4 separate regions of the Homo sapiens genome follow, and all the other regions are reported to be linked to region 1. The links are microRNA targets in miRTarBase. Many come from high-throughput screens and were not tested one by one. Region 1 holds a microRNA gene; each other region holds the end of a gene's coding sequence.

Evidence for each region. Region 1 holds the annotated microRNA hsa-miR-450b-3p (UUGGGAUCAUUUUGCAUCCAUA, at 2,101-2,122, opposite strand). A microRNA usually pairs through its seed, bases 2 to 8, with sites in the 3' UTR of a target mRNA and lowers its output. Matches are read on the target gene's strand: a 7mer-m8 pairs with bases 2 to 8, a 7mer-A1 pairs with bases 2 to 7 and ends in A, and an 8mer does both.
Region 2: miRTarBase lists GPR137C as a target of hsa-miR-450b-3p. Seed matches in the 3' UTR shown: 7mer-A1 at 1,557-1,563.
Region 3: miRTarBase lists CD4 as a target of hsa-miR-450b-3p. Seed matches in the 3' UTR shown: 7mer-m8 at 616-622 and 7mer-m8 at 886-892.
Region 4: the mRNA of KCTD21 is a reported target of hsa-miR-450b-3p. Seed matches in the 3' UTR shown: 7mer-A1 at 2,377-2,383 and 7mer-A1 at 2,608-2,614.

What each region holds. Positions count from the first base shown.
Region 1 is chrX:134,538,094-134,541,193 of GRCh38, forward strand. It overlaps MIR450B (microRNA 450b), which reads right to left and starts at 2,169; the gene lies at 2,092-2,169. It overlaps MIR450A1 (microRNA 450a-1), which reads right to left and starts at 2,338; the gene lies at 2,248-2,338. It overlaps MIR450A2 (microRNA 450a-2), which reads right to left and starts at 2,514; the gene lies at 2,415-2,514.
Region 2 is chr14:52,634,777-52,637,876 of GRCh38, reverse strand. It overlaps GPR137C (G protein-coupled receptor 137C), which reads right to left. Exons shown (of 7, transcript NM_001099652.2): 7 at 164-2,939. The coding sequence ends at 2,762. Among named protein-coding and RNA genes, the nearest start is that of ERO1A, 59 kb to the left of the region's middle.
Region 3 is chr12:6,818,731-6,821,830 of GRCh38, forward strand. CD4 (CD4 molecule) reads left to right here. Exons shown (of 10, transcript NM_000616.5): 9 at 117-184; 10 at 569-2,069. The coding sequence ends at 599. It overlaps GPR162 (G protein-coupled receptor 162), which reads left to right and starts at 3,091. Exons shown (of 5, transcript NM_019858.2): 1 at 3,091-3,100. RefSeq lists enhancers at 130-630, 631-1,131, 2,102-3,074.
Region 4 is chr11:78,171,155-78,174,254 of GRCh38, reverse strand. It overlaps KCTD21 (potassium channel tetramerization domain containing 21), which reads left to right. Exons shown (of 2, transcript NM_001029859.3): 2 at 1-3,006. The coding sequence ends at 483. KCTD21-AS1 (KCTD21 antisense RNA 1) reads right to left here. Exons shown (of 3, transcript NR_102281.1): 3 at 278-435. Among named protein-coding and RNA genes, the nearest start is that of KCTD21, 16 kb to the left of the region's middle. RefSeq lists an enhancer at 1-416.

The sequences.
Region 1 (3,100 bases):
CTAGGACATTTCACTGGTTCAGAAATTCAGCCGGGCGCAGGGGCTCACGCCTGTAATCCCAATACTTTGGGAGGCTGAGGTGGGAGTATCGCTTGAGCCCAGGAGTTCAAGACTAGCCTGGGCGATATAGTGAGACCCTGTCTCTCTGTCTTTCTCTATATATACATATATAGAAAGAAATTCAGGGGCTGAAGATTTTTTTTTCACTGGTCAACGAAAGGGGCTTAAGATCAATGCTCAATTTGGAATGATTTCTCTCTCTCTCTCTTTCTCAGCCCTAGAGGCGAGACCTCCCATTTAGAAAGGGGTCCCTCCCACACTCTGCCCCTATTCCATACATTTTGTCCAGCAGGGACTAGAGTGAGCCCTAGGGGAAAGGAGGCCACTTAGATGGTTGCTTAGCAAAGCAGATTCTCTGTGTGGTCTGACCTGGCTCAGACGAAGGTCAAAGCCTCAGCTGATCCCTGCTCTGTACCCAGTGGCAGACAAAGTATTCGTGTGTTCAAGGCCTCTCTGGCTCAGTATCACCTTAACCTCCGCTTCTCCCCTACCCGCTCCTCTATCCACAAGTAACTAGCACAGAGGTAGGCACCCAGTAAATATGCTCTGATTGACAGAGTGTGGCAGATAAAAATGCTTATGCTCCTTAAAGAGGAGTACACACATTTAAGCATGGGGACCAGTTTGGTTGTATGATTGTATGTTCTTAAGCAGAACAAGGGCAGGGCATCAGAAAATTGGAGGAATGGTCTCCTGTATCTTTGTAAATGGATATGTGTATATATATTTGCCTCACAACTCAGCTTCTCCTTTAAGGAATATGATGGATCTATTTTGAAAGTAATGTCGGCCGGGCACGGTGGCTCACGCCTGTAATCCCAGCACTTTGGGAGGCCAAGGTGGGCAGATCACGAGATCAGGAGATCGAGACCATCCTGGCTAACACAGTGAAACCCGTCTCTACTAAAAATACAAAAAAATTAGCCAGGCAAGGTGGCGGGCACCTGTAATCCCAGCTACTTGGGAGGCTGAGGCAGGAGAATCGCTTGAACCTGGGAGGCAGAGCTTGCAGTGAGCTGAGATCGCACCATTGCACTCCAGCCAGGGTGACAGAGCCAGCCAGACTCCGTCTCAAAAAAAAAAAAAAAAAAAAGAAAGTAATGTCTAGTCATATGGACTTGCTAGAGTGCCAAATATGTCCTTGGTGGGGGAACAGTTTCCCAAAATGCTACTAAAAAGATAGGAAGGAACTTAGATCCTCCTGTAATGTGTCTCTGTCCAAATCAGTGCCACTGAGGAACGCTAAAACCTTGGTAGGTGCCCTTCAGACCATGGGCCAGGTACGTGACCAAATGGTTCCATCTCTTACCAGAACAAGGATCGCCTAAATTGAGGTGTCACATGTGTTCTGCAACACCAGAGTTACTATGGAGCTCAGCTGAATTTGCGGGAAAATGCAGGGGGGGCTTTACCCGCATCTGCAAGAAGTTGGCTGAGTGGAAATAACCTAAATAAGGTGTTTTCCTGACTTGGGCATATCTCAAACTGGCCAATGCGTCTTGAGGCCCTGGGCGAGCATCCAAGTACCACCTTCCTGAATTGCTACTAGAGGAAAAGGAGCCTGTTTCAGCTTTCTATACTTCTTTAAATGTTACTTTGATTAGACATAGATAGCAGTTTGTTTACTAATATTACTATTATAACTCTGTCGTGGTTATATTTTTTAGTTATACTTTCTCTTTTCTTTGCCAAGAGCAAATGAAAACACATTTGCACTGCAGATCCAACTGAAGTTGTACAAAGGTTTCCCAGATATGTTTGAAAAAGTATTCTAGGCCCACTGCTGGCCAAATAGGAAGTCTTCCCCCACCCTTATGTCAGGGGTTCATGCTTTAAAAAAAATACAAACTCTTTTTAAAAATAAAATGTTTTATTATTGCTATAAAAGCAATGCATTTTATTGTTTATGCAAATATTACTTGGAAAATACATAAAAGTATAAAGAGAAAAACAAACATTACCTATAATTTTATACTATAATACTGTTACAAGTTTTGGTATATTTCTTCCTAGACTTTTCTCCATATGTTGATACAAAACTATGGATGCAAAATGATCCCAATACACTTATATTACATATTCAGGAACATATTGCAAAAATAATTCTGCATCTTACATTTATCACAGAAGTAAACCACAGATAGCCGCTGTTAGATTTTTTGCTTATTCCCTCCATCTTTTCATCTGTATATTGATACAAAACTATACATGCAAAATGTTCCCAATATATTTATAGTGCATATTAGGAACACATCGCAAAAACAGTTTAGTATCGTTTTTGATTGCCTATAGTGACACAAGTCAGCGATAACCACCTCTAGACTTTTGGTATACTTCCTGATAGCCTCTTTTCCCCATATTATTGATACAAAACTATGAATGCAAAATGTCCCCAATACATTTATATTACATATTAGGAACACATCGCAAAAATAGTTTAGCATCTTTCTTTGGTCACCTTTATACCACAACTCAGAGATAATCACAATAAAGTTTTTATATGTTTCCTCCTAGCCTTTTATCTGTATGTTGATACAAAACTATTCATACAGAATGCTCCCTATATACCTATATTGCAGAGATGGGAAAATATTTTGCACCTTTTTTCAATCGCTAAATGTTTTATCAGGAGCACATTCTCATGACATGAAAATTACTTTCAGAAACATTATTTTACATGAAAGCATCCTATTCTATTGTACTAGCTAGCTACGCTGTATTTTATTTGTCTAATCCTTTGTTGTTGGTCATTCAGGATGTTCCTAACTTCCATCCTTAAAATATTGAAATGAGCATCTTTATGCATTTTTTTTAACTGGGGCTTTCTGTTCATGTAGTTTTTATGGTTTTTCTTGACCACTTGTGTGGACTCAACATACTAAAAATGACCCTGTGTCTGTAATGCTTATAGCAAAGTGTTTTCCAGTTGTTTGCTTGAGCATAAATTCTTTATTTTAGCATTCTAGCACAAGTATAAAATCATATACCTTATGTAAGTTTCAATTCATTCAACAAACATTTAAAGCAATAAAGACACAAA
Region 2 (3,100 bases), not on the chromosome of region 1:
AATATGACATCCAGATGTAAGTAATTATGAGATCACTAAAGGCGAACTATCATTTGTAACTCCTGATTTTTTTTTTTTTTGTGGTAGCACTATGTTCTTATTCTTATATGATAGAAACTCAGTATAGTCCATTATAAGAGATGAAGAAAACCAGAACTCTAAATAAAAGCACAAACACTTTTATTTTTAATAGTAGTGTTTTGTTACAATTTAGTGAAACAACAAATAAATACATTCATTGGCCACAGCTATACTTTTACAACCAGTTTGAAACTGATTATATAGCTGAGAAACACTGTTAAACAATAAAAAAGGCAGCTATGCATAAAAAAGCCACTTTAGCTATAAATTACATTTTCCATAAAACTACAACCAACTACAATGAGTGGTAAAGGTTTCAAAATTAATGGCCACCCAAGTGAAATGATGAAAACAAATACTGCTAATCACTATAGAATTACACACTTAAGTAATGAAATTCACTTTTTAATGAACAAAAATGAAGGTTTGATACTGTCATCATGTGCTTCAGTGCAGGATGAACAGGGAATCGGTAGCCCTTTGATTTTATAAACAACTCCTTTCGAGACCAAACTTAAAGTGCTCCTAGTGCTTTGGAATTTTTAAGCAAAGATTGGGCCAGAGTGTATCTTTATTTGTCTTTGGTGATATGTTAGATGTGTATAAGGAGACAAATGCAAGAATTTGGGTACCCTAGTCAGTGATAAGAATAAACTTACAAACCTCAAATTTGGAACAATCAACTAATGCAGCAGAAAGAACCAAGTTATTTTATCTGAAAAATTTTTAAAAAGTAATCTTTGTTAGTTTGGTCAAATAGGAACATTATCGAGGGGAGCCTTACTAGAAAAACTTTATCACCTTGAACCCCAAGGATTAACAAAGACAACATATCTTTTTGGACAGCTCTAGATGATTAGATGCCTAACATTATTAGCAAAATAAACAGTTAGCATTCTGAGAAGCAATCTAACAACTGGAGTTGTAATAAAAGTACGCTTTTGTCACTTAATACCACGGGTAACTTTTTATACTATACATTTTAAAATAATTTGGTTACAATGAGAGAATTATAAACAAACCCAAAATAACATAAGTATATGCTTCTGATTGAATACAAAGTCATTTTGTATCATAAAAAGAAGAAATTTATTTGTCTGTGTACTGGCCTCCCAAAAGATCGAAAGCATTAACAATTTCAATTTTTCCTTAAGGTTTCAACCTAGTGTTATACTTTTATGAAGTTATTGTATCAGTTGTTAAAAAGTTGAAGTACATTTTAAGTAAGCGAGGAAATAACATTCTAATCAAAGTATAAAACAGAAAAGGATAGTCGTATTAGTTCCAGTTCTGAAGAAATAGCTAGCAGACAATTGTAGTTTGTCTTTGAGCATGTTGTGACAACTTCCCAATGTTGCTTGTTCCCTTGGCATCTTGAGGTATTCAGCATCTACTTCTTTCCATATAGACACTGGTACAAAGTGCATTTTAAAATTCTGTATTATCTCAGCCTGCCATTTTCTTTTTTTTTAGATTTGGGATAGGACATTTAAGACAGTTTTAATGTAATTCTAAAAGTACTCCAATATTGTTAACCTGTGGTTTTATACTTACCTAGTTTGTACATTTACTTAAGTTTGCTCATTTAGTCTAATGCTGGAATTAATCTGAATTCAATTTAATTTGGCTTTTCCCATATATAAGATATAAAAATGTGAAAATCATAGGAATTATATGTCTTACAAAGTATTGCACTTGAGTTCACTGCAATAATGTATCATGATTTCATTTACCTGAGGACAATCCTGATTCACTAGGTAAGACCAGCTATATCATGCTTCAGAGAAATCAAATGCTTTTGAAAATATATTTATGTTTTAATTTAGAATTACACATTTTGTGAATAATTCTTAAATGCATCTCTAAACTTGTTTAGTCCCAAGAAGTTTCTACCAAAATCTCCCTATGCAAAAGTCACTATTGCTTTCTTCAAGAATCATGCTTAAACTACTACATATATCTCAATTACACAAAATAATCAACTGACCAATTCTACTCAAAATAGCCACACAATTTTCACTGGTATATTTTCCTCTTGAAATTATTGTGGCTCTCCAAAGAACACTGCTGGCCATAACTAATGGATTACTACCATCATTTGTTTAAAATGATTGAATTTCAGTTGCTATTTTAAAATCATGCTTAAAAGAACTGTCTTCAATGATTACACATTTTCAGTAGATTTTTATAAAGAATGATACATTTTTATGCCTTAACTCTGTGCACTGTTCACACTATAAAATTTTTATTAAGATATCTGTATAGAGCATACCAATGAATATACCGGCTTTGATTTTCATAGGAAAATTGCCTTCCAGTTTGGTGTACAATACAGTATTTCAGTGTGAACATTGGCATATGACTTTGGGGACTGCAGTGACTCAGAACAAAGATAAAAGTGCACATATGCATTTGATGTTCCAAAGTCAGGATTTTTGGAGGCCATCAAGTGCCTTAAGATCTAATCTCTCTTTTCTCCTACTCCAAACTTTCCATTTTACTTCATTTTACTATGAAGAGGTCAAAAATAATAGCTGTGTTATTTACCAAACACAGCCACACTTCCAGATTTTGTTTTCAGTTGCAACAGATAATGGAATGTTTATGTAGATGGAATTTAAACACATTGAATATACACATTTATGAAAAACAACTCAAGAATCATGACTTGGTGATGCTGTCAGTTTTGTGGTGTCACATATAAGCTATGATGATTGTTCAAATCTAAATTACTACAAGTAAAGAGCAAAGGAGCAGTATCTGTCATAGGTCCATTCAGGTGGGGAGTGACTGTGTAACTGCTGCTGCCACACCCAGTCATGGTGCCATACCAGCCCAAACTTTGCGAATTTGGTAAACTGCAACAAAAAAAAGGCAAAAAGACCATAGGACTATGATCAGGATATAAGAAGTCACATTTGAATTTTTAGCATTTTCAATGAATTTTGTAATAAAGTTAGCACTCAAATACATTGAAATATGTTCTTTGTCAAATAACAAAATGCTTTTCTACAAATTT
Region 3 (3,100 bases), not on the chromosome of region 1:
GGCCTGGGCCATGTAACTGCTTCTCCTGTCGCAGCTTCCCCCACTCCCCCCACCAAGGGGCACCTCCCTTCTGGAGGCCTGGGACCCTCGTGACTCCCTTTCTTGTCCCTGGACAGCGCCAAGCAGAGCGGATGTCTCAGATCAAGAGACTCCTCAGTGAGAAGAAGACCTGCCAGTGTCCTCAGTAAGGATCTGGGAGGAGGGGTTGAGAGAGGGGAAAGGGGGAGGGGGAGGGAGTTAGAGAGGAGGGGGAGGAAGGGGAGCAAAGGGGGGCAGGAAGGGAGGATGGAGAGGAGGAAGGAGTTGAGGAGGAAGAGCTGGGAGGGGTGGAGGTGAGGAGATGGGGGCTAAAGGGGTGTGGTGGAGAGGATAGAGGGGTGGGAAAAGATGGCCAGGAGCTAGAAGGAGGCAGAAGTGGGAGGATGGAGCTGAAGGAGCAGCAGGCCAGGAAAGGCCCTGCTGGAAAGCCACTGGAGCTGTGCTGCGCTGGAAAGGCCATTGGAGGTGCTAGAACGCAAAGGGGTTGCAGTGGGGACAGACCTGCTCCCCTTCTTCTTTGTTCCTGCAGCCGGTTTCAGAAGACATGTAGCCCCATTTGAGGCACGAGGCCAGGCAGATCCCACTTGCAGCCTCCCCAGGTGTCTGCCCCGCGTTTCCTGCCTGCGGACCAGATGAATGTAGCAGATCCCCAGCCTCTGGCCTCCTGTTCGCCTCCTCTACAATTTGCCATTGTTTCTCCTGGGTTAGGCCCCGGCTTCACTGGTTGAGTGTTGCTCTCTAGTTTCCAGAGGCTTAATCACACCGTCCTCCACGCCATTTCCTTTTCCTTCAAGCCTAGCCCTTCTCTCATTATTTCTCTCTGACCCTCTCCCCACTGCTCATTTGGATCCCAGGGGAGTGTTCAGGGCCAGCCCTGGCTGGCATGGAGGGTGAGGCTGGGTGTCTGGAAGCATGGAGCATGGGACTGTTCTTTTACAAGACAGGACCCTGGGACCACAGAGGGCAGGAACTTGCACAAAATCACACAGCCAAGCCAGTCAAGGATGGATGCAGATCCAGAGGTTTCTGGCAGCCAGTACCTCCTGCCCCATGCTGCCCGCTTCTCACCCTATGTGGGTGGGACCACAGACTCACATCCTGACCTTGCACAAACAGCCCCTCTGGACACAGCCCCATGTACACGGCCTCAAGGGATGTCTCACATCCTCTGTCTATTTGAGACTTAGAAAAATCCTACAAGGCTGGCAGTGACAGAACTAAGATGATCATCTCCAGTTTATAGACCAGAACCAGAGCTCAGAGAGGCTAGATGATTGATTACCAAGTGCCGGACTAGCAAGTGCTGGAGTCGGGACTAACCCAGGTCCCTTGTCCCAAGTTCCACTGCTGCCTCTTGAATGCAGGGACAAATGCCACACGGCTCTCACCAGTGGCTAGTGGTGGGTACTCAATGTGTACTTTTGGGTTCACAGAAGCACAGCACCCATGGGAAGGGTCCATCTCAGAGAATTTACGAGCAGGGATGAAGGCCTCCCTGTCTAAAATCCCTCCTTCATCCCCCGCTGGTGGCAGAATCTGTTACCAGAGGACAAAGCCTTTGGCTCTTCTAATCAGAGCGCAAGCTGGGAGCACAGGCACTGCAGGAGAGAATGCCCAGTGACCAGTCACTGACCCTGTGCAGAACCTCCTGGAAGCGAGCTTTGCTGGGAGAGGGGGTAGCTAGCCTGAGAGGGAACCCTCTAAGGGACCTCAAAGGTGATTGTGCCAGGCTCTGCGCCTGCCCCACACCCTCCCTTACCCTCCTCCAGACCATTCAGGACACAGGGAAATCAGGGTTACAAATCTTCTTGATCCACTTCTCTCAGGATCCCCTCTCTTCCTACCCTTCCTCACCACTTCCCTCAGTCCCAACTCCTTTTCCCTATTTCCTTCTCCTCCTGTCTTTAAAGCCTGCCTCTTCCAGGAAGACCCCCCTATTGCTGCTGGGGCTCCCCATTTGCTTACTTTGCATTTGTGCCCACTCTCCACCCCTGCTCCCCTGAGCTGAAATAAAAATACAATAAACTTACTATAAAGATGCTCTTCGTGTGTGTGTGTGTGTGTGTGTGTGTGTGTGTGTGTGTGTGAGAGAGAGAGAGAGAGAGAGACCCCTTCTCTGGGGACCAGGAATCTTCTGGTCTTTGGGGTCGGACCCAGAGGAGAGGTTGCTGGGCGTGCCCCAGGAAGGAGATGAAGTTTCCCTGGAGAGGGAAAAATTCTGTGGAGGCTGGCTACCCACCTCCACAACCCACAGGGCTCTGTGTGGGCCTGTGTGTGTGTGAGGCTGAGACTCTGTAATTACATGTGTGTGATATACCGTGGGGGAGAGACTCAGGGTTGTGTGAGCTCTCCTGGTGTATGTGTGTGGCAGAGAAAAAGGACTATGAGAAACTGTAACATGTGTGTGCAAATTGTATCCCCAACATATGTGTTTGTGTTCCAGGAGGAGGAGGCAGAGTGTGTGTGTCTGTGTGCATGCATGCGCCCACATCCTTTTAGCTTGTGCACAACCACCCCCAACTCCACAAGCAGCCCCAGTGTGCACCACAAGCCCCCTCACTCCCAAACCCAAGGCCCAGCCCTCACACAGATACACACAGTGACACACGCTTCCTCCTCCCCGAACAGCTAGCTCCTCAGTCCCCAACAACACCAGCTGCCTCTTGGAGCTTGTGTTCGTGTTGAAAACGGGAAGGGGTGGGGGCAGGACATGAACCATTTCACCAATGAAGCCGGTTCCCAGCCATCCTCCTCACCGCCCTCCCTCTCAGCGCCTTCCTTGCCCCTCCTCCCCGAGTCACCACCGTCCAGTTCCCCACCCTGCACTCGTTTCCCGCCCCCCCCCGCCCCCCACAAAGCTGTCCTGCCTTCCCTCTGGCCTGGGCTCACTGGCAGGACGACCCCGGGAGAGAGGGTCCTGGAGAGTGAGAGGGGCAGAGACCGAGTGAGCCGTGGGCTGAGCCTGGGAGGCCGGGACTGAGGGGGAGGAGGGAGGCCCGGGGGAAGGGAGGGAGGGAGAGAGGGAAGGAGGGAGGAGGGCGGGCGAGCTGGAGCCGGCAGG
Region 4 (3,100 bases), not on the chromosome of region 1:
GTGGAGCTCTCCAAGGCCGAGAAGAATGCCATGCTCAACATCACACTGAACCAGCGTGTGCAGACGGTCCACTTCACTGTGCGCGAGGCACCCCAGATCTACAGCCTCTCCTCTTCCAGCATGGAGGTCTTCAACGCCAACATCTTCAGCACCTCCTGCCTCTTCCTCAAGCTCCTTGGCTCTAAGCTCTTCTACTGCTCCAATGGCAATCTCTCCTCCATCACCAGCCACTTGCAGGACCCCAACCACCTGACTCTGGACTGGGTGGCCAATGTGGAGGGCCTGCCAGAGGAGGAGTACACCAAGCAGAACCTCAAGAGGCTCTGGGTGGTGCCCGCCAACAAGCAGATCAACAGCTTCCAGGTCTTCGTGGAAGAGGTACTGAAAATCGCTCTGAGCGATGGCTTCTGCATCGATTCTTCTCACCCACATGCTCTGGATTTTATGAACAATAAGATTATTCGATTAATACGGTACAGGTAAAAGGACCCCAACAACACTGGAGATGGGGAGTCCCAGGAAGCTCATGTCAGCCAGGTCTTGGAGGGCATCTCGCCAGTGGTGCGAGGCAGGGGACTATACTAATCTGTATTAATTGTGTAGCAGGACTTGATTCCCCCCATGATGAAGTCCACCTTTTGGAATCCAGTGTCCTCTGAACAGAACCACCTTTTTTCTTGCCATTTTGAGCTGCAGACAGGCGGTTTATTATGACAAGTGAAGAGTCAGCTGATGTGTACTAAAGGAGGCCATAGGAGGATTTTCCAGCCAGGACAAAAGAGCAGCAGTTTTCTCCTGGGCTCCATCTCTCTGTACCGCTAGCCAGTGCCGCATTTATCCATCTGTAAGAAGGCCCTGGTGGAGAGGATGGGATGAGAACAAGAGGCTACCTCCAGTTAACCAGGACATAAAGTCCCCAGCGGTTCCTGTCACACCTGCTCCTCCCTCCCCAGGGTGCATCCATGATCGTGGATGTTTGCCCAGGGGTGACCATGTTTGGCTGGCTTGGAATGCTGTGCATTCTCAGAGCTCTGTTAGTGTCCCCTCTTGGGGGTCAGAGATGAGGTGTGGCAGGGTCTAGAGGAATGAGTGTCCAGGCAGAGTTCAGAAGGTAGGAATGTCCCTCTTGATAGGGCTGAATCAAGGGATTCCTGGCTTTAGAAAGGGTCTGCTATCTTTGCAAAAATGTGCAAGTATCTGTAGCCAGTGTAATGAAATCACTTCCAAATCCAGCCTGTTACCTGACTTTTGTCATTGTTTTCCCAAAAATTTGAGGTATCATTGAAACAGGTCATTTTAAACAAATCTATTACGGATTCTCAGGGTTGGAAATAATTCGATGATTGCTTAGTCCTCCCCCACCCCTAGAACACCCCAGCACATCTGAAGATGAGCGCCTCTCCCTGGGTACCTGCAAGTGATCACCTTGGCCTGCTTGCATACCTTGGCTGATAGGAAGCGCGCCATCCCCAAGGCAGCTCCTGCTGTGGTTGGACAGTGCTGACTGTTAGACAGTTCTTCCCTATATTGAGCCAAAATCTGTCCTGCCACTTGCTGGATCTTGGTTGCAGACCTTCCCATTCACCCAGTTATATATCTTTGCTTTCAAAATAGTCACCTTGAGAGACCAGACATTTTTCTGAAAACATCATTACTCAGAATTCAGATTCCCCTCTGGGATCTGTCTTCAGAATCAAAGTTAGCTCTTTTCTATCCCCTGTAAGTCAGTCCCCTTTTGTTGTAGCTTCACCTCGTTTGTGACCCCCACTTCACCCACCTTCCCCACCATCTGTGGCTCCATATACCTTTCGACCATTTTCTGCTGGAAGAGGAAGATTCACGGCCCCTGAGGAGATCCAGAGGAAAGAGACGGTCTCCAAGGGTGCTGTGCAGCAAGGAGCCCAGGAGTGGTATGAACCGTAACAGTGCCCTTAGAGTAAATGTGCGGCCCCTAAGACCCTGCCCTCAGGAAGGCGGCCTTCCCCTGCAGTCCTGTGTCCCACCCCTGGGTCTCTGTAGGGTGCCATCCAGGGCAAGCAACCCAAGCACTGCTTCCCACCGGGTGATGAGCCATGCAGGCCTCCAAACTGCACGTCATGATTCATCCCTAAAGTGAGTTTGGCCTTGAGAGTCCCCAGGGTCCTCCCCCACTGGGCAGGGGTCCTCAAAGCCAAGGAAGCCTGGTGACACAGGCACCCATGGGAGGTGGGCCCAGAAAGGGGCTTCCCATAGATAGGCCCTGTGAGTAGGGAGCTTGTACACTGGGCCATGGGCAGCGCCAGTTCCCTTGAGCAGTAAAGGCCCTTTTCCCCCTACGGTGGGACCCAGGAGTCTCTCTGACAGCTTTTCTGCCAGGCACAGTGGCTCATGCCTGTAATCCCAACACTCTGGGAGGCCGAGGCGGGAAGATCACTTGAGGTCAGGAGTTCAAGACCAGCCTGGCCAACATGGTGAAACGTCGTCTCTGCTAAAAATACAAAAATTAGCTGGGTGTGGTGACAGGCGCCTATAACCCCAGCTATTTGGGAGGCTGAGGCAGTAGAATCGCTTGAACCCAGATAGCAGAGGTTGCAGTGAGCTGAGAGTGTGCCATTGCAGAGAGACTCCATCCCAAAAAAAGACAGCTGTCCCAGGCCAAGGGTACTTGGGAGAGCCCCTCATGGAGAACCTAGTTTAGACCAAGTAGCAGAAGCTGTGGTCATAACAAAACAATTTGAGGAAGAAATCTTACAAATCACCACTGCCCTTTCTCCTTTTCCATAAAACTGTCCATCTTTTCGGTGCTCCCTAATCCAAGCAGCTTGACTTTAGAGAAGTTGCAGAAGCAGTGAAGCCACTAACATGCTGTGTGACTTTATGCAAGTCACTCACCTCACTGAGCCACCTCCATTTCTTCATCTGTGAAATAGGCATAACAGTAATACATAACCCTACCTACCTCACAGGGCTGTTGTGAGGATCAAATGAAATAATGTAACGTGAGAATACAGTATAAATGATAAAGGATTGTTATTCTTTTGTGTCTGCTTGTAACGGGGAAAAACACTGGTCTTGAGTCACAGTGACTTGGGTTTGAATCCAGAGCTCCAAGCCTCTGTAA